7 separate regions of the Homo sapiens genome follow, and all the other regions are linked to region 3. The links come from fine-mapping of genetic effects on gene expression. A gene starts in region 3. Each other region holds a variant in brackets. All regions are shown on one strand. Distances are from middle to middle. Region 1 overlaps MPZL1 (myelin protein zero like 1). Region 2 overlaps TIPRL (TOR signaling pathway regulator). Region 3 holds the start of MPZL1 (myelin protein zero like 1). Region 4 overlaps MPZL1 (myelin protein zero like 1). Region 5 overlaps MPZL1 (myelin protein zero like 1). Region 6 overlaps MPZL1 (myelin protein zero like 1). Region 7 overlaps MPZL1 (myelin protein zero like 1).

Evidence for each region.
Region 1: its variant is fine-mapped to the expression of MPZL1 in fibroblasts (GTEx, PIP above 0.99).
Region 2: its variant is fine-mapped to the expression of MPZL1 in lymphoblastoid cells (GENCORD, PIP 0.95).
Region 4: its variant is fine-mapped to the expression of MPZL1 in NK cells (Schmiedel 2018, PIP 0.95).
Region 5: its variant is fine-mapped to the expression of MPZL1 in lung (TOPMed, PIP above 0.99).
Region 6: its variant is fine-mapped to the expression of MPZL1 in whole blood (TOPMed, PIP above 0.99).
Region 7: its variant is fine-mapped to the expression of MPZL1 in whole blood (TOPMed, PIP above 0.99).

Annotation. Positions count from the first base shown.
Region 1 is chr1:167,789,665-167,794,075 of GRCh38, reverse strand. MPZL1 (myelin protein zero like 1) reads right to left here. Exons shown (of 6, transcript NM_003953.6): 6 at 2,157-4,411. Among named protein-coding and RNA genes, the nearest start is that of MPZL1, 70 kb to the right of the region's middle. RefSeq lists a silencer at 1,345-1,493. The variant C/G (reference allele first, on the strand shown) is at 1,863.
Region 2 is chr1:168,189,550-168,193,960 of GRCh38, reverse strand. TIPRL (TOR signaling pathway regulator) reads right to left here. Exons shown (of 7, transcript NM_152902.5): 4 at 2,461-2,592. Among named protein-coding and RNA genes, the nearest start is that of TIPRL, 13 kb to the right of the region's middle. The variant T/C (reference allele first, on the strand shown) is at 2,102.
Region 3 is chr1:167,719,644-167,724,054 of GRCh38, reverse strand. It overlaps MPZL1 (myelin protein zero like 1), which reads right to left and starts at 2,073. Exons shown (of 6, transcript NM_003953.6): 1 at 1,813-2,073. The coding sequence starts at 1,903. RefSeq lists silencers at 1,434-1,573, 1,604-1,673, 2,064-2,433 and enhancers at 1,245-1,745, 3,972-4,411.
Region 4 is chr1:167,742,050-167,746,460 of GRCh38, reverse strand. All of the region lies in intron 1 of MPZL1 (myelin protein zero like 1), which reads right to left. Among named protein-coding and RNA genes, the nearest start is that of MPZL1, 22 kb to the right of the region's middle. The variant C/T (reference allele first, on the strand shown) is at 2,182.
Region 5 is chr1:167,769,446-167,773,856 of GRCh38, reverse strand. MPZL1 (myelin protein zero like 1) reads right to left here. Exons shown (of 6, transcript NM_003953.6): 3 at 1,369-1,582; 4 at 489-621. Among named protein-coding and RNA genes, the nearest start is that of MPZL1, 50 kb to the right of the region's middle. RefSeq lists enhancers at 1,850-2,351, 3,286-3,857. The variant C/T (reference allele first, on the strand shown) is at 1,722.
Region 6 is chr1:167,759,503-167,763,913 of GRCh38, reverse strand. All of the region lies in intron 1 of MPZL1 (myelin protein zero like 1), which reads right to left. Among named protein-coding and RNA genes, the nearest start is that of MPZL1, 40 kb to the right of the region's middle. The variant C/T (reference allele first, on the strand shown) is at 2,368.
Region 7 is chr1:167,777,200-167,781,610 of GRCh38, reverse strand. All of the region lies in intron 5 of MPZL1 (myelin protein zero like 1), which reads right to left. Among named protein-coding and RNA genes, the nearest start is that of MPZL1, 57 kb to the right of the region's middle. The variant T/C (reference allele first, on the strand shown) is at 2,463.

The sequences.
Region 1 (4,411 bases), 70 kb before region 3:
CATCTATTATTGTATCACTGGAAAAAACTGAGACAGATCATAGAGCTGAACATAATCCAAGATACACATAAAGCTATGAGTAAAGTTAATGTACAAAGTGTATATGGAGTGTACAATCTGTGTACAGTGGTAGAAAGTGACCCACAAATTTGGCTAGGACCTAGAGAATAGCAAAAGCAAAGAGACAAATACAATCAGTGACAAGTCAGTGCACATGACTAGTTTGAAACAAAATATTCATAAGAAACAGTTTTCCTGGTGTATTACTTGTTTTCACGCTGCTATAAAAGATACCTGGGACTGAAGGCCAGGTGTGGTGGCTCACGCCTGTAATCCCAGCACTTTGGGAGGCCAAGGCGGGCAGATCACCTGAGGTCAGGAGTTCGAGACCAGCCTGGCCAACATGGTGAAACCCTATCTCCGCTACAATACAAAAAAAAATTAGCCGGGAATGGTGGCGCATGCCTGTAATCCCAGCTACCCAGGAGGCTGAGGCAGGGGAATCGCTTGAACCCAGGAGGTGGAGGTTGCAGTGAGCCGAGATCGTGCTACTACACTCCAGCCTGGGCGACAGAGTGAGACTCCATCTCAAAAAACAAACAAACAAACAAAAAACAAACAAAAACAAAACCCCAAGACTGGGTAATTTATGAAGAAAAGAGGTTTAATTGGCTCACCGTTCTGCAGGTTACACAGGAAGCATAGCGTCTTTGGCTTCTGGTGAGGCCCCAGAAAGCTTCCAAATATGGCGGAAGGCAAAGGGGTAGTGAGGCTTCTCATGAGGCGTCTCACGTGGCGGGAGGAGGAGCGAGAGAGCAGAGTGGGAGGGTGCTGCATACTTTTAAACAAACAGGTCCCATGAGAACTCACAATCACGAGAACAGTACCAAGGAGGACGGTGCTAAACCATTCATTAGAAATCTACCCACTGTGATCCAATCACCTCCCACCAGGCCTCACCTCCAATGCTGGGTATCACAATTCGACAGATTTAGGCTGCGACACAGATCTCAACCATATCATCTGGTATTAAATCCAGAGAGATATTTGTGCTGTGGGTCTTTATAACATTGAAAAATGTATGACAGGGAATAACGTTCTCAAAGCCATGCTGGCAGTAAAGTACAATAAGTAGCTAGTTTCCTAGGACTCTTTTTTATGACATACTTCAATGTAGGCTGATAGAATTATGTCAAAGGGGCTGGGCCTAGTGGCTCACACCGGTAATCCCAGCATTTTGGGAGACTGAGGCGGGCATCTCTACTAAAAATACAAAAAATTAGCCGGGTGTGGTGGCGCGTGCCTGTAATGCCAGCTACTGGGGAGGCTGAGGTGGGAGAATCGCTGGAACCTAGGAGGTGGAGGTTGCAGTGAGGCAAGATCATGCCACTGCACTCCAGCCTGGATGACAGAGCAAGACTGTCTCAAAAAAAAATTTTTTTCAAATTATATCAAAGGGTAATTTCATTAAAGTAATTCTACAAAAAAACAAAATATATTGAAATTGTTCATACAATATCTTGACTATGCAAGAGGAAAGTGCAGGGGAGAACCCGCCATAAAAGCAGATGGTTGGCTCCTACCACCAGCTCTACCAATACCACAGATGCCACTTTCCTCCCCGTGGCTGCTCCCTCGCCTTTCCTGCACAGTGGGAGGATGAAGTCAGTGGTTCCCCAGTCCAGTTAGCACAGGAACTACCCAGAGGGGTCAGAAGGGAGCCAACTGGGGTGAGAGAGTATCTGAGTTTCCTCTAAACACTGCTCAACTCAGCTCCCTCAGGGGTGGAAGCTGCTCTCATAAATAAAAAGTCCATCTTTGGTTGGCAAGGCCCCTATGTAGCTTGGAAACCAGAGCCCCAG[C/G]AGGTGGATGCCCTCCGACACTTAGTGCTGACTTGGAAGGAATTGCAGAGATGACAAAAATGTGATTCCATCACTCACTGCTGCCCTTGTGTGGTGAAGGAAGCATCCCTTTTCTTTTTGTCACATCACGCAAGATGGATGCTGTTCACATGTGAGAATTACTCCCAGGGGAGTTCCTGCCAGCTGTAACTCATCTTCTCCCACTCAAGAACGCATTAGGTTTTGCAAGCCCAAAGTTATGCAAGGCAGGGGCTCATTGTGAATCCATGGTAATTTATAAAATTACTAAGTCACTGCGAAGCCTCAATGTTTTATTAGTAACACATTATTTGTAACATAGTTCTCAACAAATTAAGTCACCACATTGTCTTCCAGACTGAGGTTAAAGCTCTCAGACATCTGTGCCTACCACCTAGACTACACTACCCTCTCAAGTTCCTAAGGGACTCTCTAACCAGCTCCTAAGGGACTGGGAGAAAACTGCAACTGCATTTCAGCACATTTATTTGAGTAAGGAAGCAGTTTGGTACTTCCTTTTGGTGTGAGAGGCCACAGGGCATAGTGGTTAGGAACAAGGCTGTGGATCAAACAGCGGCCCCAGGCCCAGCCCCTCTTCTCTGTTCCTTTATTAGCTAAGTGGCCCTGGGTAAGCCATATAATCTTTCAAACAATGGGATTAAGATTAGTACAATTACTGTTAACTCACAGAAATAATAGAGAAAGAAATGCAAAGTGCCTGGCTCACACCAAGTATTTGGTAACTACTAGTTACTTCCATTCATGTCACCTGTCACCTCCACCCTGTGGCAAGCTCCTTGAGGAGCTTTGTCTTGTTTTGTTTCCTTATGCTTAGCACAGTGCTTGGCACAGGATTGTTCTCAGTGTAGGTTGCTGAATGGATGAATGCTTCCACCTACTCATCCATCCACGTAACATGTATTGAGCAGCTAAGTGCCAGGTGCTGTTCCCTTTACTGCAGACGGAGCAGTGAACAAAACAGCAAGGTTCTGGTCTCTTGTTAACTATGTTCTAATGCGGGAGAACAGACAAGTGTGTACTGGGAAAGAGGGAGAGAAATAGAGTAACTAGAGCAGAACTGAGGGGGCCAGGAAGGCTGAGGCGGTGGGGTGGGGGGCTTGCTCTTTTATATATCACAGAAGGTCTCCCTGAGGAGGTAACATTTGAGCAGAGGCTTAAAGGAAGTCAGAGAGCAAACCACAGGAATATTGGCAGAAGGCATGCTTCAGGCCCAGGGAACAGCATGTGCAAAGGCCCAGAAGCAGGCACACGGACGGCATTTTTGAAGAAAAGAAGGCAGGTGTAGCTGGAATGATATGAGTGAAAGGCATATCTCTTTTTCTATTCTGGTCAAAATGAGCACACAACACAATTCAGAAATTGAAAAAGATGTATTAAAATATTCACAAAAATACAACTGAAGATCAAAAAATAATAATGAGCTTGATGGTTTTTCCCTAGCTGATATATTTCCATTGAAAAACTAGAGATAGTTTGAAATTTCAATCTCTAAGTAATGCCTTTTGAGTGCTCCCATACAGAATTAGCGCATAATTTTAAGACGACCCTGTTTGCCAGGACGAAGACATGGAGAGGGCAGATCTGCCCTTTAGGCAACCTTAGTTCGTTATCTGCAACCAGGAAAGGAGTGCTGAGGCACAGGGAAAAGGGGAGCCAAAAGGGCTGCAGGGGTGGGTGTGCAGGGCTTGGGAAGAGGTCCTGCCCTGAGAGGCTCATCTCAGTGTGAGCAGCTTCCTTCAGGGAAACCTGTCCTGGCAGAGCACCATGCTGGCAGCTGCCCTTGCCTGGGGGGAAGGTTGGTGAGAACTGGTGAGGATTCTCTGCCAGAATGCCAGGGCACTGACAGAGTTTGAGGTGTCTGGTTGGGCAGGAGGCCAAGAAGTCGGGCTGGGGAAGGGAGTGGTAAGGGAGGAACAGGCCTCCAGGTGTCATTCGAGTGAGTGGCCCCCACAGCACCAGCTTCACCAACACATGGTCCCGGCACCGCAAGAAGAAGTGAAGGCTCTTGCTCTCAGGGAGCTCCGAAATGTTTCATTTATTCACAGGAACTGTTGAGAAAGCAGTGAAAAAACAATGCCCCTTTTCTCTGTAAAAAACGACTGTAAGGAAACATGACACAGGCCTGTCTACAATGTGTGTCCTCTGTACCTCAAGCACAGCCCTGGTCAGCTATGTGGTTTTCATGGTGGCAAAGGCTCACCAGGAGTCTCAGCTTGAAGGATGGTGACAATCTCAACACCCTTCCCCTCCAAACATAAGAGGCCTTCCAAAGGCTCCTATAGTTTTCAAAATAGATGCCCAAAAAGTTTTAGGATGCAAGGCAGAGTTGACCACTTTGTGGAAATGTCTCAGGGCCAGCACTGTGTGTCACTCTCTTGGGCTGGGCCTATGAACATGGAAGGCAGCAGGGCAGGCGTTTTTTTCTCCATTCCACACAGAACACAGAGCAGACGCTGCCCAGCTTCAGACATGTGTGGTGACCAAACCTGATCCCTGTTGACTCACACAGA
Region 2 (4,411 bases), 470 kb before region 3:
TTACGGTGACTCAATATGCAAATATAAGTACCTGACTGCTTCATTATGTCTTTGGTGCAGTCATATTATGCATTTAAGTATTAAAATATATTTTATTCTAAACCAATTTCCTTTAATTTTATAGTTAAAATATGTTGATTGCTGCAAAGTAGGTGGATTAAATCATCTACAAATTTCACTACAGGATAGTAATATCTATGAACTAATACTTCAGCTTAAAGTAGTTGGTTAAAAAAATGCTCTTCAGTTTAAGACTTACTATGTATTCTTGTACACACATATTTATACACATATCCTTTCAAGCAACTCCATCCACAAAACCACATGTGCTTTCCAAATACCGACCCACTTATAGACATGATATATATACCCCCTTGGATACAAATGCACACCCAGGTATGCAAACTCATAATGAACATTTAGCATAGTCAATTCAACAGGTGGTAGACAAGTGGAAAGATACAAGACTAGGTGAACTGAAGAGAGAATAAATCTAAACAAAAAAAAGTGAATTTAGAGTTATAAGTGAGCAAAGAAGTAAAGCCTATGAAAACAACTATCTAATGCTAGAATAATGATATATATTAGATGATACAAAGAAAACTTTGCAATTAGTTTCATGACCTTAAGCTATCTTTTTAGGCCTTATCTATAAAATATGGAGGCTACAAAAAATGATTCTCTAAAAATTCACTACAATTTCAAAATCCTTTGATTCCACCGAAAAAACTAATTTTATTTTTAGATAAGAAAAATAAAATTTTTTATTTATCTAAAAATAAAATTATTTTGTCTCCCAAGCTGGGGTGCAGTGGCACCATCATAGCTCACTGTAGCCTTGACCTCCTGGGCTCAAGCAATCCTCCTGCTTCTGCCTCCCAAGTAGCTAAAATTTGACTTTAAAACAAATCTGTTGCTGCTTTTGTATTATTTTCATTCTTTAAATCACAGCATCCACAATCATTATGCCCCAAGAACAATGTTTGATGTTAGGGTCTCTGTCTTTGACAGATCTCATGACAAATGCTATAATTGAGAGGTTTTTTGTTTGTTTTGTTTGTTTGTTTGTTTGTTTTGAGACGGAGTCTCGCTTGTTGCCCAGGCTGGAGTGCAGTGGCACGATCTCGGCTCACTGCAAGCTCTGCCTTCCGGGTTCACGCCATTCTCCTGCCTCAGCCTCCCGGGTAGCTGGGACTACAGGCGCCCGCCACTGCGCCCAGCTAATTTTTTGTATTTTTAGTAGAGACGGGGTTTCACCATGGTCTCGATCTCCTGACCTCGTGATCCGCCCGCCTCGGCCTCCCAAAGTGCTGGGATTACAGGCATGGGCCACCGCGCCCGGCCTAATTGAGAGGTTTTTAAAAAGGAGTATAGAAAAGAGATATTTAACTCTGTGTAACGGAGTTGTGAAGGGCCTTGTAGAAAAGGTGGTATTTTAGCTGGGTCTTTGGGTCTTAAAGAATGAGGCATTTAGTAAAAAGTTTCAGTTGAGTTATTTCTGGAAAGTATTAGAGACCCAATTATAATGCAGTGGTAAAGAAATATGAATAACCATACTTGTTATGTGTGTTTTCTACTTCTTTTATTTTATTTTATTTTTTTTTTTTGAGACGGAGTCTTGCTCTGTCGCCCAGGCTGGAGGGCTGGAGTGCAGTGGTGCGATCTCAGCTCACTGCAAGCTCCGCCTCCCGGGTTCACGCTTCTCCTGCCTCAGCCTCCCGAGTAGCTGGGACTACAGGTGCCCGCCACCAGGCTGAAAATTGAAGTGGTAGTTGAATGATGCACTGAAATCATAACACATGGATCATTTTAAAAAATGACATCCACCTTGCCGTCTGCAGATCCTATCAACATCATTTTTAATCCAAAATGTGAAAATTAAGCCACAGTCTTCATTAGAGTTAAATAATAAACAAATAAACTACAAGGTGGCCAGGCAGGTCTATTAAAAATGCTTTGCTAAAATAAAGCCTTAAGAATACACAAATATTTTGTGAATTTTATAATGGATATTCAATAAGATACACTCTAGATTCAAGTGAAATTGTACATGACATCATGTTAAAGCTCAGTGTTATTCTTTTTTTTTTTTTTTTTTTTT[T/C]GCTCTGTCGCCCAGGCTGGAGTGCAGTGGCGTGATCCTGGCTCACTGCAAGCTCCGCCTCTTGGGTTCACGCTACTCTCCTGCCTCAGCCTCCCGAGTAGCTGGGACTACAGGCGCCCGCCACCATGCCCAGCTAACTTTTTGTGTTTTTAGTAGAGACGGGGTTTCACTGTGTTAGCCAGGATGGTCTCGGTCTCCTGACCTGGCGATCCAGCCCGCCTCAGCCTCTCAAAGTGCTGGGATTACAGGCGTGAGCCACCGCGCCCGGCCAGGCTCAGTGTTATTCAAAGTGAGTCATATTTTTGTCTGATGTTAAGAATGCAAGAAAAATATTAATTTTAAATAAAAATAATACTCACAATCTTCACACTCAGGCTTGAAACTCCATGATCATGAAGTTCATCCTCAAAAAGGAGAACTTCTTCAAAAAACTTAATCTGTTCTCTGGCTTTCAATTTTTCTGTATCTATATGATCTGTTGTAGGTACAACCTGAAAGAAAAAATTTTAAAGAGGAGCACATTAAAAAAAAAGTTGAGGAGCTACAGAGACACAGGAAAGCAGTCTTTTCTTTTCTTTTTCAATCAGTCTTTTCTACATAGCCAGAGCACACAGTTCTAAATTTGGGTGTCATTAGTAGATATAAAAGATCAGAATATGGCTTGATTCTGAAAACTGAAGACATTACAGATGCCCAATATTATAGCTTCACAAAAAAAGCAGTAAAAATTTATCATTTTTCATGCAAGTCATATTAAAATCAACTTCTGTTGTGACTATGAGAAAATTAATCAACTAAACATCAGTCAGTGTGATGAACGACTGCTATCATAGAAGGTCATAGAACATTTGTGCTGTGAAAGCCACTTTTAGGACATTCATATGGAACTTAAAAAATATTTTTCCATTAGAATGTTAGATATTTGCTCAACCTAACTCCCCAAAACCTACAACAAAATAAAGTGCTTTAAATAATGAGGTAAACAAGAACTTGTAGAGAAATTCTGAGGGAAACTCTTAGCATTGCAAAGAGCTTTGAATGAAGTTGGCAATTTTTCAAGGTATTATTTTGTAGCTCTAAGACATGCACACACGTAATCCAACAAAAGCATCAACAGTCCCAAGGCAGATCATATCAGGAGCTCATTAAACTCAAGTGTCTCCTGAGCAGCACCCAAGTATGAATTGTGATACTATTTTCTACCACACCTAATTTCACTACAAAATGCTCAGCTGTTTTACTCCTTGACAGGTTTACCATAAACAAACACAACAATGCTTGTCAAACCATAGATATTTAGTAAATGTAGCTTTACTTAAGCGTCATGATTAGGTGATTTGTTTTGACTCATGGACAAAATTAGCAGATGGAGAGTAATTTGAGATAACTAGATAAGAATCAGAAGAAAATTACAAAGGATGTTGTTTACAAGACTGCACAGATTTTGGGAGGAAATCTAAGGGAACGTTAAGTAATGTAGGGGGAAAAGATGCCATGAAAAGAAAGTGGCAGTTTGTATATGATTTCCAGGAGGTAAAAAAATGTCCATAATTCTTCCATGGTCACTTAGAGATAACACTTAGCCCTAAGCAGTTTTACTTCCAACTGTGTACGGAGCAGGTATAAGGCCACTCTTGAGGTGAAAACTGGGAGGGGAAGGGAGTTGGAGTGTAGGGGCAGGGCATATAACCAGTCCCCTGCATCACACATTAAGTTTATGATCTAGTTAAACAAAAGTTGGTCTGCCAACGAGGACTGCCTAAGGTTACACAACTGAAATTAGTGTTAAATACACACACTTGTAAATTTCGTCCTTTTTATTTGATTTTAGTTCAGAGGAACACATTTTTAACATCCTCCTTATAGATACTCCTGAATCCCCCAAAATTAATCATTATCTGAATTTTCTCATTAGTAAATTGCTTCATTAATGTTTCACATATGCCTTCAGTAAGTGATTGGTCAAAATGAATCTGTCAGTTTTTCCATTTACGTACTTGTTCTTATAAAATGAAAGACAAAGTCAAAAAACAAAGCATGAGTTAGAGATATCATATTTAACTTATTTATGCTATTGTCTCCATTTGCAAGGCTAAATATGTCTAAAACTTTATACTTTTCAGCTCTCTTCCTCAACTCCACATATCTCTCTCTGAACCCAGGGATCTAAAAAATACAACAAAAAAAAAATAACCAGCTAAATATAAAACATATGGGCTGGGCGCGGTGGCTTATGCCTATAATCCCAGCACTTTGGGAGGCAAGGCGGCCGGATCACTTGAGGTCAGGAGTTTGAGACCAGCCTAGCCA
Region 3 (4,411 bases):
GCGAGGAAAAGGCAGAGGAATCACTGGAGCCCAGGAGTTTCAGTTCCAGAGCAGCCTGGGCAACACAGTGAGACCTAACCTCCCACCTTTTAAGTGTTAAGCACTTAAAAGGTGCTCAGTGAATGTTTGCTGAGTAACTGTCTTGATAAAACTTTAGAAGCTATCCTGTAAAAGATAAACTCTTATGTGCAGTATCCATGACCAGAAAAGAGGTGATTTGGCAAGAATTTTAGATTCAATAATTTTCTAAGTTGAACCAATAACATCAGCTGCTGATTTTTACATATCAACATTCATCTTCATTACTGAAGAGTTACGTCCAAGTTGTATGGGGCTATTACTCTAGTGATCTTTTCACTACTATGTAGTTTTGCACTCCTTCTACGTTTAATACCCTGATTTTAATTAAGATCACCCTAACTGCTTTGTCCTCCATAGCAATGTCTGACCTCTCATGCATAACAATTCTGTCTGAAGCATATTTCTGATAAACCTTAATTTTAGGCTATTTTCTACTTGTTTGATTAAACACAAATACCACCACCAACAAACACACTTTTAACCTTTTTTTCTAAGACAAAATACAGAATGGATTGTGTCTTACACAAAGTGTGTCATCATCTGTCAACCCCTGGAGGGTAGGGAGACTTTTACATTTATGCTTTACAGCCCCTGGAATCACTGTTTAAGTGGAACAGTTGGTGATCCAACAGAACTTCACCTAGTTTCCCTGATCCAAGGATTATATTAAGAACTTTTCCATGAAGAAAGAAATTACTGAGTAAACTCTGGTATTCAGATACTGTGATGCTAAATCATAACTGACATTTTGAAAACAAAGGGAATGAAAAAAATCTACGTGGTTTCTTAGCAGCTGGCCCTCTTTATAACTATTATTTAACTAAATTCGGAGACAGCAACAAGTACTTTGCTTTGAACAACAACACAGAAAAGTCCTGTGGCAGATACCACTTCAGATGTCCATAAAACAAGTCATCCAATTCCCATAAATTGAGCCCGAGGTTTACCTTAAGCTTGAGTCACAATATTTGGTAAGAAAAAGGAGCTTTTTTTTTCCTTTAGGAAAATTATGCTTTTTAATGCTCTATGTCTTGTCAAATTATGGTGGCTACGTCTGGAATTATGATGGATTTGACCAAATTCTTTTAAGCCAGGCCATCTCACTGGTATTCCAAGCTCTTTGCATTCTAACCTAGAAGTAACAATATTTTTTTATTGGCGTTTTGCAGACCACGGAAATGAGACTCTTTTATTACGGAGACTTAAAACTGAATGAGAGCATGGGAAAGGGAACTTACAACAAAACCCTGGCTTAACAGGAAACAAATCAACAAAGGCCCTACAAATGAAAAACCTGCAACTTTCCGCCACCTCCCAAAGGTGAAGAACGCCAGAACCCTAGTTCCTGAGTCAGAATCCGGGAGGGCCTAGACGATCCAGAGTCACCACGAGGAGAGGGCAGGGTGCGCCGCGAGGGCTCACCGCAGCCGCCCGCCGGGTCCGCTCCCCTGGACCGCCCCCCGGGAAGGAGCAAGGTAAAGCACTCTCCCCTCCTCCTCCGCACTCCAGGATCCAGGAAAGAGAAGAAAGAGGCTCTGCGCCTTCCCGGCCAGTCGCGGAGGCCCGCGTTCCCCATGGGCTGGGTCCCCTCGGCCCCAGAGAGCGCAGGCCGCGCCCCCTCCCCACCTCGGCTCTCAGTGCGCGCGCCTGGCCTGCGACCGCCGCGATGGGCGTGTGTCGGGCCCGGGGGCCCCACTCCCCGGCCCCAGCCCTGGTCCTGGCATCACTTACAGAGCCCAAGCGCCGCCGCCAGCACCGACCACAGCCAGCGCCGGCTGTCTGGGGCTGCAATCACCGCCCCGGCTCCGGCGGACGCTGCCATCGTCCAGCCACTGCAGTCGCCGCCGCCGCCGCCGCGTCCCTGAGCCCGGGTCCCCGCTGAGGTTGGCTCGGCTTGGGGAAGAGGCTTCTGATCTCTCCGCCACCCGCGCCGGGTGGCACCTCCACGCCGCGCTCCCCACTCCGGTCCCAGCCGCGGCTCTCCAGCTCTGCACCGAAGCCTCAGCCCCACTCCGGCCCTCGCTGTCCGCTCATTGGCCTGCCCGCACCCTTTTAAGGACGCGATTGGAGAGTCAGGCTGTCCATCATCCGTCCGCCGGGAAGGCCCCGCCTCCTCGGTCCCACCCAGGCGCCTCGGCCCCGCGCGGAGGCCGGGTCTGCAGCGGTCCCAGGCCGAGCCGAGCCTTCCGCCTGCCTGCGTGGCTGTCCGCCTGCGGGCCCCACCAGCCAGCGTCTCCTCTGCCTTTCTCAGGGTCCAGTCCCGTGGTCCTCTTCATTGTCTCTCCTCGCCACAGGTCTTTGCTGGGTACTAACCTCGCCTCCGTTTCAGCTCTTCTTGTTCTCTGCCGGCCTCACCTAACGAAAAAGAAGCAATTCATTTACCTTAAAAAGAAAGAAAAGACAGAAAGAAAAATAATGAGGCGTTCAATTGATGGGGGAGAGACTTCTGATTCAGTCGTCCAGGTGGAACACGTTCCCCGTGCCGTGTCCCCAAGGCCTGTCCTTTGCGTGGACTAGATAATGTATGTGTTGCAATTTGCGAAATCTACTAGTTTAAAAAGAAGTCTCCATCTTGCCCTAACCTCCTCTTAGGAACCTCCCTCCTGGCTTCAGAAGGATGGGAATCTGGAACTCTTTCCTACTACCTGAAAAACAAATGAAAATGCTTTTTGATTGTTTTGCTTTCGCATATCTGTGTTCCTGTCTGTGTCCGTGAAAAATAGAAAGCAGAAGTTCCCAACACTGATTCTGAAGTGCCCTGCAGAAGTTCCCGACACTGATTGCTGGCCCTGCTCAACTTGGTTGCCTTGGCCCAGAACAGTCTGCCACCTACGGGTTGTCCAATCAATAGGGGAAATATTTGGAAGGATCCTTATGAAAATGGCTTACAAAAGGGAAAAATGGGGGACAGGGGCACAAGAAAGATGAGTGTGAAGGAGGAAAAGGGAAGATTCAGGTGGGAGGCTGATACGATGAGGAAGGGAAGCAAGCTTTAGACAATTAGGACAAGAGCGGGGGAAGAGTATGGTGAGAACCCAAAATGTAACCTCTCACTTCAGGGTTTTTGTCTAAGGTCAGTCTTAACAATGCCATTCCTGATATCTGTGCTGTTTCAGCTAACATTGCAGTACAGCGAAATCATAAGAACATTAGTGAGAAAAAAACTTAAAAAAAAAAAATACCAGAACCACTTTGCCCTATTTCTGTCAGCAGATCCTTTTGAAGTTGTATCTCAAATGCCATAGGTTGGAAAAGATACCAATGCATTAATTGAACCATGGATGTAGAACACCTGGGCTTTACTCTCAAGAAGCACATCGTCTACTAGTGTACACAAACAAGTACTCAATTACATTTGTAAAAATGAGGGCCGGGTGCGGTGGCTCACACTTGTAATCCCAGCACTTCGGGAGGCCGAGGCGGGCAGATCACGAGGTCAGGAGTTTGAGACCAGCCTGGCCAGCGTAGTGAAACCCCATCTCTACTAAAAGATACAAAAAAATTAGCCGGGCATGGGTGGCGCGTGACTGTACCCAGCTACTCGGGTGGCTGAGGCAGGAGAATCGCTTGAACTGAGAGAAGAGAGACAGAACCTCTCATATAGTTTTATACTCAGAAAAGGAAAGAGAAGCGAAATTAAAGGCAGGTAACCCGGCGCCTAAGAACCAGACCCGAAACCAGGCCTGGGCCTGCCTGACCTAAGCCCGGTAGTTAAAGATCGACCCCTGACCTAACCGGTTATGTTATCTATGGATTCCAGACATTATATGGAAAGGCATTGTAAAAATCCCTGTCCTGTTCTGTTTCGTTCTGATTACCGGTGCATGCAGCCCCCATTCACAGTACCCTCTGCTTGCTCAATTGATCATGACCCTCTCACGCGGACCCCCTTAGAGTTGTGAGCCCTTAAAAGGGACAGGAATTGCTCACTCGGGGAGCTAGGCTCTTGAGACAGGAGGCTTGCCGATACTTCCGGCCGAATAAACCCCTTCCTTCTTTAACTCCGTGTCTGAGGAGTTTTGTCTGCGGCTCATCCTGCTACAGAACCTGGGAGGCAGAGGTTGCAGTGAGACGAGATCACGCGCCATTGCACTCCAGCCTGGGCGACAGGGCGAGACTCCGTCTCAAAAAAAGGAAGAGTGAATAAAGAAGAAACCCAAGGCCAGCAGGGACAGTGACTCTCAGCAGTGTTTAAAGCTTCTCTGCTGATTGTGATGTACCTCAGCCACATATACCTCGCTCTCCTAAAATCCACTGGCCCAAGAAGCATCTAGAAAGATTCACCAAGGATAAAACATTTAAGGTGAACTTTAAAAGATGAATAATTCAC
Region 4 (4,411 bases), 22 kb before region 3:
TGCCCACCCCTTTGCTGATGCAAACAGGGAGGGAGAGCTGCTTTACAATGCTGCCTAACATGCCAAGACAGCCTCAACTCCCTCGCACGGCACACAGAGCCTTTCAAAGGCTGGCTCCAGGTTACCATTCCAGCCAGTTTATCATTCTCATCTCATCCCAGAGCCTACATTTTTGCCACATCAAACTTCTAGCCCTTTCCCCAACACAGCACACTCTTTATAATATGCTGTATATGCTATCTCTCAGTCTGAATGCCTTCTCCACCAACCCACTCCCGTTGGGCCAACTCCCACTCTTCCTTCAAGGCAACTCCAAGGCAATCACCACTGCAAAGTCTCCCCTAACTCGTGGTCTAATCATAGGTATTTTTTCTGAAGTATAAATGAATTTTTTATTTTAAAAGACTTATAAAGGTGTAAAAATTGTCATAGTTCATGTAATTGAAGACACCACTGAGGGTAAGACACATTATTTTCTGTGTCCCCAAGAAATAAAAATGCTGGCTATGACTCGCCAACAATTGTAAGGCATATCCCAATATCAGAGATATTAAAATATTAAAAACTGTGTCAGAATTAATGAAAGGCAGTAAACCACAAACCTGAAAGGCATGTTGTCTTCCAACTATCAGTTAACCTATAACACATCTCAATAATTGTTTTCCAGCGTCTCCCTGGCTTCTGGCATCTAAGACTCTGAATTTTACCCAAATTTGGTTCTTCTATCTCTTGTTTCTTAGCTCAGAATTTAAAACCCAGGATATGCATAGTAAAATGAGTCCTATTTATTAAGTTTGAAAATAAGAGTGCCCATTTATTAAAAACATGTTTAATAAAATACAAAAAGAATATGACAAAACACAGAAATCAGTAATATCATAAAACTAAACAAAAACAAAAAAAGCTTCTTTGCCCATAGTGACCCAGGCAATCAATACCCAACATTTCAGCATCATCAGTGTTAACCCAAACAAAATAGAGATGTTAAGTATTTTCCGTGTTTTTAAAAGACACACAGGATATTCCCTGTGTTCAAGGTTCCAAAAACATTCTTGACATTAGTCTGCTGAATCTTCTATTCACACTATTAGTGACATGGTGTTTAGTACAATGCAAGATTTTTGCCCCATAACATAAACAATGACAAGCACTTAAAAATATATTTGTAATAAAGAGTCTGACATCATTTTTGATATTTGACTGCCAAGAGCTTTCAAGCTGTACCCCTTTCCTCAGGGCAAGCTAATAAGAAAGCCCAAGTGAGCCATCCTTTGGAACAGGTGGGAAGTTCAAACCAAGACCTGGCTGAAGGGGCATATAAGGACCTTCACTCCAGACTCAGCAACTTATCACCATAAAAGGAGAGCCAGTATCCTTTTCCTGCTTTCTCAAGCCATTCTTGTACCTGCATGGGAAGCCTGCCCTGCTCTCCCCAAAAAGCCTCAGTAAGTGAGTCATAAACCCTTTTCGTACCGTCCTGGTGCACATATGGTATCATCAGTTTCCACATCTTAACCAAATTTTGCAGTGGGGGGAGAAGTAGTGGATCCATCCGCCTCTGCGGAGTAAGCACAACATTTATTCTTAAACTGATGACAGTAAACATTATTCTGTTTTGATCTTACTCCCAATTTAATGGAAATAAATTTAACGAAACAAGTGGAAAAAAATATTTACTAGTTGTTGGAGTCTATAACTTTTATTAAGGTCTATATGTGAACTTGGAAGGAGAAAATGGGCAAACTGCTATTTGGAGGTTCTTTTTTTTTTTTTTTTTGAGACTGAGTTTCGCTCTTTCGCCCAGGCTGGAGTGAAGTGGTGCGATCTCGGCTCACTGCAACCTCTGACCCCCGGGTTCAAGTGTTTCTCCTGCCTCAGCCTCCCAAGTAGCTGGGATTATAGACGCACACGACCATGGCCCACTAATTTTTGTATTTTTAGTAGAGACAGGGGTTTGCCATGTTGGCCAGGCTGGTCTCAAACTCCTGACCTCAGGTGATCCACCCGTCTTGGCCTCCCAAAGTGCTGGGATTACAGGCATGAGCCACTGTGCCCGGCCTTTTTTTGGTTTTTAAAGAACACTTAGACTCTGGACATGCTTCCTAATTGTTTTACACATCAAAAGTTGTCCCCTTTGTAAGTTTTTAACAAGATGTCTAGAAAGGTTTCCTGAAAAACTTC[C/T]GGTGTGACTATGTGGTCTGCAACTATGTGAATCACAGGGTTACCCGAGACAAGAAAGAGTGATGTGGGACCTTGTGCAAAAAGCCCTCCATGCCTCAGTTTCTCATACTTTTAAGTTTATTCTAATAGTACCGACTTCAAAGAGTTATTACAAGAATGAAATGAGTTAATATTTGTAAAGGGCTTAGAATGCCTGTCCATTACATACCTCAATGTAATAAAAGCCATCTATGACAAACCCACAGCCAACATAATAATGAATAGGGAAAAGTTGAAAGCAGTCCCTCTGAGAACTGGAATAGGACAAAGATGCCCACTCTTACCACTTCTCTTCAACAAAGTATTGGAAGTCCTAGCCCGAGAAATCAGACAAGAGAAAGAAATAAAGGGCATCCAAATCAGTAAAGAGGAAGTCAAACTGTTGTTGTTTGCTGATGATAAGACTGTTTACCTAGAAAACCCTAAAGACTCCTCCAGAAAGCTCCCAGAACTGATAAAAGAATTCAGCAGTTTCCAGATGCAAAATTAATGTAAACAAATCAGTAGCTCTTCTATACACCAACAGCAACCAAGCTGAGAATCAAATCAAGAACTCAACCCCTTCTACAATAGCTGCAAAAAAAGTAAAACAAAATACTTAGGAATATACCTAACCAAGGAGGTGAAACACTTCTACAAGGAAAACTACAGAACACTGCTGAAAGAAATCACAGATGACATAAACAAAAGGAAACACATCCCATGCTCACGGATAGGAAGAATTAATATTGCGAAGGCCAGGCGCGGTGGCTCACGCCTGTAATCTCAGTACTTTGGGAGGCCGAGGCGGGAGGGTCACGAGGTCAAGAGATCGAGACCAGCCTGGCTAACATGGTGAAACCCCGTCTCTACTAAAAATACAAAAATTAGCTGGGCGTGATGTGCGCCTGTAGTCCCAGCTACTTGGGAGGCTGAGGCAGGAGAATTGCTTGAACCCAGGAGGCAGAGGTTGCAGTCAGGCAAGATCACGCCATTGCAATCCAGCCTGGCGACAGAGCGAGACTCTGTCTCGAAGAAAAAAAAAAAGTGAAAATGATGATACTGCCAAAAGTAATCTACAAATTCAACGCAATTCCCATCAAAATACCACCATCAGTTTTCACAGAACTAGAAAAAACAATCCTAAAATTCATATGGAACCAAAAAAGAGCCTGCATACAATCTGGAGACATCACATTACCTGATTTCAAACCATACTATAAGGCCACAGTCATCAAAGCAGCCTGGTACTGTAATAAAAATAGGCACATAGACCAAAGGAACAAAATAGAGAACCCAAAAATAAACCCAAATACTTACAGCCTACTGATCATTGACAAAGCAAACAAAAACATCAAGTGGGGAAAGGACACCCTATTCAACAACTGGTGCTGGGATAATTGGCTAGCCACATGTAGGAGAATGAAACTGGATCCTCATCTCTCACCTTATACAAAAATCAACTCAAGATAGATCAAGGACTTAAATCTAAGACCTGAAACTATAAAAATTCTAGAAGAGAACATTGGAAAAACCCTTCTAGACATTAGCTTACGCAAAGACTTCATGACCAAGACCCAAAAGCAAATGCAACAAAAACAAAGATAAATAGCTGGGACTTAAACTAAAGAGCTTTTGTGTGGCAAAAGGAACAGTCAGCAGAGTAAACAGACAACCCACAGAGTGAGAGAAAATCTTCACAATCCATTCCAAAATAAACTATAGTTCCTATTCTGATTATGGTAGACTGATGATAGACTATGGACTCCTTAAGAAATTCCCTCAGGCACTCCATATATATTTATTTTAAAAGTTGGCAAGTATCTTTTTTATTTGAAAGATACTATTAAGGTATCTGCCCATAATATAGTTAGGCGATACACTCTTATACTTGTTATATATTTATATGCCGGGTTTTTGATATTATGGAAAACAAGAACAATTTGATAAGATCAAAGATTTTTTTTTCTTTTTTTTGTCTTGCTCTGTCACCCAGGCTGAAGTGCAGTGGCATGATCTCTGCTCACTGCAACCTCCGCCTCCCAGGTTAAAGTGATTCTCCTGCCTCAACCTCCCGAGTAGCTGGGACTACAGGTGAGGGCCACCACGCCTGGCTAATTTTTCTATTTTTAGTAGAGACGGGGTTTTGCCATGTTGGCCAGGCTGGTCTCAAACTCCTGACCTCAGGTGATACACTTGCCTTGACCTCCCA
Region 5 (4,411 bases), 50 kb before region 3:
CAAACGCCTCGGCTCAAGCAATCCTCCTGCCACAGCCTAAGTAGCTGGGACTTACAGGCACATGCCACTAATTCCAGCTCACAACTTCTTAATTAGGGTTTTATATTTCCTAACTGGAAAGAACCACCTTGTGAGTTTATTAGCAAGAAATTGAAATTAAACTCTTAAATTGGGTAAGTGATGTCTTAAGAATACTAATTGCATAGTGGATGGTATTGAAACACAGAGCACAGACTGCTGAGCAGCTCATCTCACCAAACCTAAGAAGGAAACTGGAACAGAGATTAGAATCATATTCCACATTTAATAGCAGGCCCACTGATTTCCACTTGCCCATGTTAGAACACCTCCTAAGGAGACTGCCTGATTCTGACATGAAAGAAAATAGTAGTTAATTCTTTAAAATCCTTTTTTCATTAAATACAGAAGTTTCTATAAACCCTGATTCCCTCCCTCCACCCCTGCCCTAAAAAAACAGTGTTTCTTACCCAGTGTAATCCCGTTTAGAGTTTTTCCTTCTATAGAGGACAGCCAGAATCATGCTGATGAGCAGAGTGAGACCTAGGACCACAGCAGTAACTATGCCCACCACTACCCAAACTGGAAACACAGGCAAATTCTCTAGAGAGAAAGAACAAAATAGTTTTAAGGTACATTGCTACAGAGAGAAAACATGGAATTTTATTAAATTAACGAGCAAGTATCTTCATTTAGCAGTTACCGTACCCTCTTTTATTATCCAAACTATGAGATCCTACTATCTATCCTATTACTATGTAATTCATGACATGTGAATATTAGATGAGAAAGAATGAACTATGGAACTAAGCATTTCTACACCTACAATCCCTCTCAGTGCTCTAAAGAAAAACCGGAGGTGTGAATTTACCTGGATCTACTCTCCAACAAAACAGACTTTGTCTCAAAAATGAGACACCAGAACCTGCATTTCCTGTTTGTTCTCAAAATCAAAAGGAAGAAATAACTGTGCTGTTGTTGAAAGCTTTCTCCTGGAGAATATAAAACAGTATGAATCTCCTTCTTTCCCACTGCCCATCACATCCAAACATAATGAATTTGGTCTTTCTTCTAATTAACACTGAAAAATTCATACTCCTGAAATTAGACCAATAGGCACCAGACGGTAGGAATAAAAATGGAGAAATCAGCCACTCTGGGTCAGAATGAGCAACAAGTTTCCCAGCTCCAAGTGTGTTTGGTAGAGCCACAGGTTCGTGGCAACAGGGAGCACAACTGTATGGCAAAAATCCTCCCTCCAAACCCACCATGAAATGCAACTCATGTTTTCCAACCAAACATGAGATAAAGGAGACTGCATTATTACTGCCAAAATACTCAAGGAAGTACCTTTTTCTACGACATAGAGCCTAATGTGTCCAGGCTGGACAACGATGTCAGGAGGGTTTTTGACATCACAGATATAGGTGCCATTGTGTATAAACTGCATATTTTCTATGTTGATTGATGCATCTTTCTTGTCAAGGTCTCCAGCCCAGCTGATTCTGTCTTTAAATGGTGGATAATTCCCAAGGTACACTTGCCCTTGGGAGTAGTGGAAAAACTGCAATTAGAAAAAAGGAACACATGAACTATTCTCAAAGGCAGAATTCCTAAACTCTGTAATGTGCATGCTATGAAAGGTTCTTTTAAAGACTTCATACGGAAAGAAATGCAACATCTCTCTCCCTCTCCCTCTCCCC[C/T]TCTCTCTCCTCCTTTTTTCGGTCTCCCTCTGTTGCTGAGGCTGGACTGTACTGCCGTGATCTTGGCTCGCTGCAACCTCCCTGCCTCGGGCTCCTGTGATTCTCCTGCCTCGGGCTGCCGACTGCCTGGGATTGCAGGCACGTGCGGCCACGCCTGACTGGTTTTTGTATTTTTGGTGGAGAGGGGTTTTGCCGTGTTGACCGGGCTGGCCTCCAGCTCCTGACCTGGAGTGTTCTGCCTGCCTCAGCCTCCCAAGGTGCTGGGTTTGCAGATGGAGTCTTGCTCACTCAATGCTCAATGCTGCCCAGGCTGGAGTGCAGTGGTGTGATCTCGGCTCGCTGCAACCTCCACCTCCCAGCCACCTGCCTTGGTCTCCCAAAGTACTAAGATTACAGCCTCTGCCCAGCTGCCACCCCATCTAGGAAGTGAGGAGCGTCTCTGCCTGGCCGCCCATCCTCTGGGATGTGAGGAGCCCCTCTGCCCGGCCACCCTGTCTGGGAAGTGAGGAGCGCCTCTGCCCGGCCACCACCCCGTCTGGGAAGTGAGGAGCGCCTCTGCCTGGCCGCTGTGCAATCTTCCAAGTGTGAAGTGACAGCCTTTCTGCACGTGTACCCAACAGCTCCGAAGAGACAGCGACCATTGAGAACGGGCCATGATGACGATGGCGGTTTTGTCAAAAAGAAAAGGGGGAAATGTGGGGAAAAGAAAGAGAGATCAGATTGTTACTGTGTCTGTGTAGAAAGAAGTAGACATAGGAGACTCCATTTTGTTCTGTACTAAGAAAAATTCTTCTGCCTTGGGATGCTGTTAATCTATAAACCTTACCCCCAACCCCATGCTCTCTGAAACATGTGCTGTGTCAACTCAGGGTGAAATGGATTAAGGGCGGTGCAAGATGTGCTTTGTTAAACAGATGCTTGAAGGCAGCATACTCGTTAAGAGTCATCACCACTCCCTAATCTCAAGTACCCAGGGACACAAACACTGCGGAAGGCCGCAGGGACCTCTGCCTAGGAAAACCAGAGACCTTTGTTCACGTGTTGACCTTCTCTCCACTATTATCCTATGACCCTGCCACATCCCCCTCTCCGAGAAACACCCAAGAATGATCAATTAAAAAAAAAAAAAAAAAGAAATGCAACATCATATTACAAATCACAAGTTATGGAATCTAAGCCAGACAGAAGTTTAGAGATCACGGCACTCAACCCTGCCAGGTTTCAATGGAAGAATCAGACTCATATATCACCTCTAATCCTCTCAATATTTCATTGATATAATTATTACCACCCATAATTTTATAAAAGACAAAATGGAGACTTAAGAGAAGCCATTTTCCCAAGGTACCAATGATAGTAAATTGGGGACCCAGAGTAAAATTTAGGCCCATCTGAGTCTTCAAAGCCAATGTTCTTCCAGTAACACCATGATTGAGCCCAGTGATTCCCAAGGCTTCAGAAAGCTTAGTGTTGAGTTAGCTTACCACTAAGATACACAGAAGCACAAAGGAGAAGAATCCTAAATATCTCAGATCAGCTAATCTGAGTTTCGCCCTCTTCCTTCTGGTTTCCTATGGAAAAGTCATGGGTGTGTGAAAGGAACAAAGCCCAGATAACACAAGATACTCTTGCCGGCTTTTGAAAGTTCAGCCTTTAGCCCCTTTCTCTTTCCACTCCTCAGTCTCTCCTCAGTCCTGCTTTCAGCAAAGGAACTGTCTTCTCAAAGTAAACCTTGTCAAACTCAGCACCTGGAAGCAGGGTTAAGGCCCAGTGGGAGGGGATCTATCCTCACACTTGGCTCTAATCCAAGCAGCTATGCTGGAGGCCTGATGTCTTTGTTCTGGTTAATGGACGGGGTGATGGTGGAGCTGGGGATAGAAACCAGCTCTATTAGCAATTCAAACAGAACATTTTCAGAACCCTTTGAGCACGGTGAAAACCCCAGTGCAGACTCATCCATTCCTATGATTTAATGATCATCTAGATTTTCTTAACTCCCAAACCTCTCTCTCCATCAATAGCGTCCCCTAAGCTCTAGACTCCTTGCCTACTCACTTTACCACCTGGCTGCCCCTCTCCCCCAAGCTTGTCACCCTCTCTTACAAACTTCATCTTCCCCTCTTCATGTATCGTGTCTTCACTGATGGCTACTGTTTCTTTCCAAAACCATAAATCTTGAAGTCATCCTTGATTCTCTTTCTTCCTATCCAGTTAATCCCCCAATATTGTCAATGTCTCATTAGTTTCTCTCAGTTCTCTCTTCTCTCTATTCGGTTCCCACTGACAATATCTGTTTTTATGTTTTCATCATCTTGGACTATGGCCTCTTAACTGGTATGTCTAACTCATCATCTTCCACAATGCCTAAATGATCACTGATAAAGAATAATGGTTATTATTATAACATTTATCAAATATTTACCCTGCATTTCATATGACCTAAATGCTTGTTAAGAACCGTGAAGGGTCTGAGATTTTACCCTACTTACAAGCTAACAAAGTTAGTTGGCCACAGGTTCATAGGTGCTGACAGAAGACACGGACTCCTGTGAAATCTTCACTCCCATGAAGAAGACTCAGAAACAAAGAACCTTATGAGCAGAAAGCATGTGTTTGTTTCTCTTGCCCCGCAAGTCCCATAGCCATGACATGGAGGGGCTCACATGGATGTTGTGCAGGCAGAGGCGTTG
Region 6 (4,411 bases), 40 kb before region 3:
TTTTGGCTATTCTTTTAAATAAACTGATAGCCATACTGCATCAAGCAGATTTTTTTTTCTGCGAAAGAGGGTGGATTATTATTACAGGGAACAATAGATTATTATTTGCGGTCCAAACCTCAAAACAAGCATTTCTTTCAGAGGAGATGCAAACAAAAGAGTTCCTTGCTATTGTGGGTACGCAGAAAAGCAGCCCCAGGGCACTTGAGTTCAAAATGAAGGACAAAGCACAAGACTAGACTAGTGGACCAGCTTATTCCAGGAAGCAGCACTGGCTTGCAACCCTTATTCACTCTGTGTGATTTTGACTAGTTTTCTCCATGGTGATGAGTACTGGAAAGCCACAGTCTCTAAAAGTCTATAAATAAAGTTTCTCAAGGATTTTCTTTTCTTTCTTTCTTTTTTTTTTTTTTGAGACCGAGTCTCAATCTTGTCACTCAGGCTGGAGTGCAGTGTTGCAACCTCCGCCTCCTGGGTTCAAGCAATTCTCCTGCCTCAGCCTCCCGAGTAGCTGGGATTACAGACACCCACCACGACGCCCAGCTAATTTTTGTATTTTTAGTAGAGACGGGGTTTCACCATGTTGCCCAGGCTGGTCTCGAACTCCTGACCTCAGGTGATTCACCAGCCCCGGCCCCCCCAAAGTGCTGGGATTACAGGCGTGAGCCACCGCACCCAGCCTTCTTCAAGGATTTTCTTAAACCAGATCCCTTCCTCGAGGCCTAGCTGCAAGACTTGTCATCCCGAGACATTATTTAAAGATGGAATTAGACCAAGTGTCCAAGTTTACAGTCACAGAATTTTGAGCAAAAAGACTAACCAAATTCCCAAATGGCTTTTAGGCATCTATTTAAGACACAGATTTCATTATACCAAAGTTAGGTAATAAACAGGTGGCTTTTTAAAAAACACACAACACTCTTTGGCTAATCTGAACGTGTAGCTCTTAGCCAGGATTATGAAATCCAAAGCTAGCCCATCAGCTAGCTCAAGAAAAAGAAAATGATGCCACACACTGAGAAATTAACTTCCTCCCATCCCTGGCTATCTACACTTTTCTCTAATACTACTCTTGTCATCATTTTTGGAGATTTCATCAGTTGTAAGATAAACCTTCTAAAACCCTAGTCTGTTTATCTTCTCCAATAATCTGGGTAAGATCAGGCCTACCCCAGCCACTCATTTCTATGGTCATACCTGTTCAATCAAGTTTAGCCTAAAGCTGCCTCCTTACATATTTTAAGTTCAGCCTAAGGGTTTTTCTGTACACTGTGAACTATAACAAGTGTAGGTGTAAACAGGCCGTAGCCAATCACCTTGGGCCAAGCACCGAGTTTTGGCCAATCAAATGTAGCCAACTGTTCAAATTGTGTTCAAGTAAGGCAAATGCTGAGCTATAATCAATGCAGCTGTTTCTGTACCTCACTCCCGTTTTCTGTACATCACTTTCCTTTTTCTGTCCATAAATCTTCTTCCGCCACGTGGCTGCGCTGGCGTCTCTGAGCCTACCTTGGCTCAGAAGGCTGCCCAATTCGCAGTTCATTCTTTGTTCAGTTAAACTCCTTTAAATTTAATTCAGCTGAAGTTTTTCTTTTATACCCTAAACCAGGGCTTCTCAACCTCAGCACTACTGACAACTGCCACAGACAATCCTTTGTTGTGGGAAACTGTGCTATACCTTGTAGGATGTTGAGCAGCACCCCTGGCCTCTACTAGATGACAGCAGTATCTCCTCTGCCTCCAGTTGTGACAACCAAAAATGTCTCCAGACATTGCAAATGCCTCCTCAGAGGTGAAATCCCCCCAGTTGAGAATCACTAGCTCTAGACCCAATCATCAGTACCTGCACCCACTCCAGAATCGTAGTTTCAGGCTTCTCTACTCCCTAATTGACCACCTCTTAGCTTTCCAATATCCTCCAAAACCCTGAGTTCACTGATCCCTAAGCTGCATCAGAAACTAAAATCCCAGCATGTCTTCATTTGCCTTACTCAGACTAAACCCCATAGGCCACCATTATACTCACCCCCTTGCATACACAATCAGCTCTCTTGCCTCTCCCTTCAGGGCCTTCACCTGGAACCTCTATCCTGGTTAAATTCAATTCTCTATCCACTATGCATCTCCACCAGGGTGGCTGACCACAGCTGGACAAAAGCACACAATCCCACTGACTATTTTCGCCTTAAATGTATGGTCACTAACCTTAAAGGGACTCTTAATGCTGTCTAGCAATCCACCCACATTGCCCTAATCCATCTGCTTTCCATTTCCCTAGAGGACTAGTTTAAACCTTCCTCTCTAACCTCAAATTTCCACTTCCTCTGGTTTCTCACTCCCAGCTAATGACTGAGCTGCTTATTTCAC[C/T]GAGAAAACAGAAGCAATGAGAAGAGAACCTCCCTATGTCCAGACACCATAGCTACCCACCTCCCTGCATCTGTGCCCATTCTGCTTTCCCTGCACTCCTATGTAGAAAGTGTCTGTCTGCATCCCTCTCCAGGATGAACCTCTCCACTGCACATTGCATCTCATCTCTTGCCTACCTAAGGACATTTATTGATCCAGCAATTCTCCCTCTTCTGAATTTTTCACTCACTACTGAATTACCACCAGCAGCAATATAAACATACATATTTATATTTATATCCCAGGTTTAGAGAAAAAAAACCTTGACCCTGCATCTCCCTGCAGCTCTGGCCCCTTTGTCCTCCTTTATTTTATCAATCTTGAAAGAACTGTCTGTACACACTGTGTCCAATTTCTCTCCTCTTCTGTTCTCTTGGATAAATCCAATTTAGGCTTTCATCTCCGTTACTCCATAGAAACTGTTTTTGTTAAGGAATGCAATGACCTCCATGGTTAATTCTCAAATCTTGTCTTATTGCCCTATCTAAAACCTTTGAAAGTTACTCCCTGCTAAAACCTTTTTTTTTGTTTTTTAACAGTTTGGCTTTTGGAATGCCTCTCCCTCTTGATTCTCTTATCTCATTGACTGCTCCTTCCCTGGTTCTCCTGACCTCTATATGATTAAGAGCCCAGATCATTTCTCTGACTGCGTATCTATTTAACATTCCTTCTCTTGGTGACCTCACTCAGTTTCAAATGCTGATGACACCTGTACACACACACACACACACACACACACACACACACACACACACACACAGCCTATTCAACTTTGCTTGGATGTAATTGGCATCATCTCAAATTTAATATGTCCAAATTAAACTCCTGATTCCCACCCCCCAAACTTCCTTTCCATGGTCTTCTCCAAATCAGTAAATGGTAACACCAGTTTTCTAGTGGCTGAGACCAAAACCCTGGACTGTTTTGTGACTCCTCTCTTTTGCACAACTTTCCTCCAAGCTGTCAGCTACACATGTCATCTCTACTTAGAAACCTATCTAGAGGGGCCGGGTGCGGTGGCTCACGTTTGTAATCCCAGCACTTTGGGAGGCCAAAGTGGGCGGAACACCGAGGTCAGGAGATCAAGACCATCCTGGCTAACATGGTGAAACCCCGTCTCTACTAAAAATACAAAAGAATTAGCTGGTGTGGTGGCGGGCGCCTGTAGTACCAGCTAATCGGAAGGCTGAGGCAGGAGAATGGCGTGAACCCGGGAGGCGGAGCTTGCAGTGAGCTGAGATCACACCACTACACTCTGGGCGGGGTGACAGAGCGAGACTCTGTCTCAAAAAACAAAACAAAACAAAACAAAAGAAACCTATCTAGAAATTGATCTCTCTCTGCCTCATTTGGTGTCACCATCTTGGTCCAAGCCACTGTCATCTTTCACCTGGATTAAGTATTGATAGCTTCCTAATTGGTGTCTGCCTCCTTCAGCCTTCCCCACTTCACAGCAACTAGTCCACAGAGAGGCCAAAGAGATCTCATTAAAATTCAGGTTGGATCATATCACTCTTCTACTCAAAATCCTCTATGGGTTTCCCATCAGCCAGATCAGGCCAGTCCTCAAGTGGCCTACAAAGTCCTACATGAGCTAACTCCTGGCTACCTCTCGGACCTCATTGCCTACCCTGACCCCCTCAAATATGTTGCAGCAGCCACCCTGGTTACCATGTTTTTCCTCTGCCTATTGTGAGTGTACCCCAGATAGAGAATGCTATGGACAAAGAGACCAAAGGTATCCCAGGAAATCACGATGCCATGAGAGACAAGGGAAGAGTGGCCAACTGTGTCAAATGCTGAGAGCTGGGCACTCTGCGTAGTTGATTGCAGCGAGAAATTTCAGTGAAGATCCTTGCTTAAAACTGCACATGGTTTCCTTGCACACAGCATCTAAAATCCAAATTAACTTTTGCCAAGCACAGAGCCGCAGTTTCTGACCAACTACGGTGAGCACGAATGGCATCTTGTCAGAAGTGTTCTCCTGTGTGGGTAAAGAGAGAAA
Region 7 (4,411 bases), 58 kb before region 3:
ATATAAACAGTTAATGCTACAAATCTTCAAAGCACTTCTTTAGCTATATCTCACAAATTTTGATATGTTATTTTCACTCAGTTCAAAATATTTTCTAATTTTTCTTGTGACTTCTTGTTTTACTCATGGGTTGTTCAATTTTGAAATATTTGAGACTTTCCAGGTATCTTTCTGTTGATTTCTGTTTAATTCCATTGTGGCCAGAGAACGTACTCTATATGATTCCAACCCTTTTAAATTTAATGAGAATTGTTTTATGAACCAGAATATGGTCTATATTTGGTTAATTTTCATGTGTACTTAAAAAGAGTAAGAATTCTGCGCTTGATGGAAGGAGTGTTTTATAAATGTCTATTAGCTCAAACTGGTTTCACTGTTAAGTCTTCCGCATCTTTTTTGATTTTCTGTAAACCTGTTCTACCAACTGCTGAGAAAGGAGTGTTGAAACCTCCAACTATGATTGTGAATATGTCAATTTCTCCTTTCAATTCTCTTAGTTTTACTTCACTTACTTTCAAGCTCTATTATTAGAAGTATAAATATTTAGGATTATGTCTTCTTCATGAGTAGATCACTTTGTCATCATAAAAAGTCTGTCTTTATCCCTGGTTCTATTTCTTGTTCTGAAGCCTATTCTGATATTATTACCACCCAGATTTCTCTTGATTAGTGTTAATGTAGCATATCATTTCCATCCTTTTACTGTTTAAAAAATGTGGTAAAATATATATAACATAAAAATTAGCATCTTTACCATTTTAAAGTGTACAGCTTAGTAGTGTTAAGTGCATTTACATCCTTGTGCAACCAATCTCTACGATATTTTCATCCTGCAAAAACTGAAACTGTACCAATTAAACAACTCCCTATTCTTCCTTCCCCAACAACTACCACTCTACTTTCTGTCTCTATGAACTGGACCACTGTAGGGTATGGGATATTAGTAGAATCACATAGTATGTCTTTCTGTGGCTGGCTTATTTCACTTGGCATATCTTCAAGATTCATCCATGTTGTAGCATGTGTCAGAATTTCTTTCCTTTTAAAGACAGAATAATATTCCATTGTGTATATATATACCACATTCTATTTATCCACTTGTATACTGATGGACTCTTGGGTTGCTTCTGTATTTTGGCTCTTGTGAATAATACTGCTATGAACATGGATGTACAAATATCTCTTCAAGACTCTGCTTTCAATTTCATCCTTGTATTAATATTTTTAACCTACCTGGATCTTTTTATTTAAAGTGGTTTATTGCAGACAGCATATGATTGGTTCTTGCTTTTCTATCCAATTTGTCCATCTCCACCTTTTATTGGCACACTCAGCCCATTTATAGTAATACAATCATCAGTCTGGTTGAGTTTAAATCTACCACTTCATTATTTGTGTTCTATTTGCCCCATCTACCCTTTGCTCATTTTCCCCTCCTTTCCTGCTCACTTTTGGATTAACTGAGTATTTTGAAATGATTACATTAAAGTTTCTTGTTGAAACCTCCAACTATGATTGTAAATACGTCAATTTTTCCTTCCAATTCTCTCAGTTTTACTTATTTTCAAGCTCTACTATTACAAGTATAAACATTTAGGATTATGTCTTCTTTGTAAGTAGATCGCTTTATCATCATAAAAAGTCCCTCTATCTCTGGTTCTATTTCTTGTTCTGATGCCAACGTTGATATTATTACCATCCGCATTTACCATTTTCCATGTTGTAGCATATGTCAGAATTTTGTTCTTATCAGTATTGCCATTCGGAGATAGAGCTTGTTAGCTGTATCTATCTCTTTTATTTTTTTCAGTGTTTGCTCTAGAATTTGCAGCATATATCTTTAACTTACCACAGTCTACCTTCAAATTATAATTTCATGGATAATATAAGGACCTTACAACAGTATTCTTCCATCCTTCCACCCCATCCTTTGTACTACTGTTGTCATACATTTTACTTCCACATGTTATAGCCTCATAAAATGCTGTCATTATTTTTGCTGTAAAGAGTCAATTTTTTTTTTTTTGAGATGGAGTCTCACTCTGTTGCCCAGGCTGGAGTGCAGTGGCGCGATCTTGGCTCACTGCAATGTCCGCTTCTGTGGTTTAAGCAATTCTCCTGTCTTGGCCTCCCAAGTAGCTGGGATTACAGGCGCCTGCCACCATGCCCAACTAATCTTTGTATTTTTAGGAGAGATGGGGTTTTGCCACGTTGGCCAGGCTGGTTTCGAACTCCTGACCTCAGGTGATCCACCCACCTCAGCCTCCCAAAGTGCTAGGATTACAGGCGTTGAGTCACTGCGCCCAGCAATTTTCGCTATTGCTTTCTGTGTGTTTATGTTTTTCATTAAATTTACTAAAAATTTCACTATTTCTTTACATATTTTTTTCTCTCCCTTTTTCTTCTCGGATTCTAATTAGATTGCTTGATATTGTCCGGTGGCTCACTGAAGCTCTGTTCAC[T/C]TTCTTTTTTTTCTTTTTTTCTTTTTTGAGACAGAGTCTCGCTCTGTTGCCCAGGCTGGAGTACAGTGGCATGATCTCAGCTCACTGCAACCTCTGCCTCCCAGGTTCAAGTGATTTTCTTGCCTCAGCCTCCTGAGTAACTGGGACTACAGGCACGTGCCACCATGCCCAACTAATTTTTTGTATTTTTAGTAGAGATGGGTTTTCACCGTGTTAGGCTCTGTTCACTTTCACCCCGCCATCTGTCTTTCTCTTTGAGCTTCATTTTGGATAGTTTCTATTGCTATGTCTTCAAGTTGATTGACCTTTTTTTTTTGCAGTATCTAATCTGTTGTTAACACCATCCAATTTTTTTTTATTTCCAGAAGTTCCATTTTGGTCTGTTTTAGATATCTATTTCTTTCCTCATTGGGTTCAAGCTTTCCTTTACATCTTTAAGTTTACTAATAAGATTGATAATACTCATTTTAAGGTCTTTGTTTATGAATCCCATCATTTCCATCCATTCTGAATTTGTTTCTGATTGATTTCTCCTGATTTTTTATTGTAATTAATTATTAAATTATTATTTTTTTAAATCTATCCATCCATCCATCCATCCATCCATCCATCCATCCATCCATCCTTCCTTCCTTCTTTCCACCCATCTATTTATTTGAGATAGGGTCTCACTATATTGCCCAGGCTGGTCTTACACTCTTGGGCTCAAGCAATCCTCCCACTTAGGCTTTCAAGTAGCTGGGACTACAGGTACACACCACTATATCTGGCTTATGTGTTTTATTTTTTGGTTTCTTTTTATGCCTGATAGTTGTTTTTTTTTTTTTGAGATGGAGTCTCACTCTGTCACCCAGGCTGGAGTGCCAGTGGTGTGATCTCGGCTTACTGCAACCTCTGCCTCCCAGGTTCAAGTGATTCTCCTGCCTCAGCCTCCTGAGTAGCTGGGATTACAGGTGTGCACCACCACACCTGGCTAATTTTTGTATTTTTAGTAGAGATAGGGTTTCACCATGTTGGTCAAGTTGGTCTCGAACTCCTGACCTCGTGATCCACCCGCCTTGGCCTCCCTAAGTGCTGGGATTACAGGCGTGAGCCACCGCACCAGGCCATGCCTGGTAGTTTTTGATTGGTGCCAGACATTGTAAATTGTACATTGTTGGGTGATGAATTTTGTTGTAGCATAAAGCGTGTTGGATTTTGTTGTAAAATGCAACTAAATTACTTTTGGATTAGTTTGATTCTTTAAAGGCTTCCTTTTAAGCTTTGTTATGGTGGGTCCATAGCATCCTTTATTCTGGTACTAATTTAACCCATTTAGGTATGACCATTTTGAGAACCCCAACCAATACCCTGTGTATTATAAGTCTCTCTACTCTGGCTCTTAGGAACACAAACTAGTCCCTCACCTGTGTGAGCACCAGGCATTGTGCAACCTACTGCATTTCAGGTAGTTCTTCCCCTGGTTTCAGAGAGTGTTCTCCTATGTGTATACAACTCTGTAATCAGACAAAGACTCAAGGGGACCCCGCTCCAAATCTCTGAAGTGCTCGTGCTCATCCTAGCACGCTCTCTCTATGGTTCCTTCTTTGGTACTCAGCCTCATAAATCTTAGCCTCCTTGACCTCCCCAAATTCTGATTTCCGCCTTCTCAATTGAGTGAGACAGCTGGGCCCAGTTTCCATTTTCCCCACCTACACTGCAGTGTGGAAACTGCTTCAAGGCAGTACACTGGGGCAATAACACGGCTCACATTGTCTGTTTCCTTTCTTTTGGGGATGACAGTGCTGCATAATTTGTGTTCCACTGTCTTGAAAACCACAGTTTCTTTTTCTTTTTTCTGGTTTGTTTTCAGCAAAAAAGCAACTTCCATAGTGCTTCAAGGGCGGAATAAAAATGTTCCAATGCTTTTTTAGATGCTATGCCTATGTGTATGTAACTTTCATGTCTTC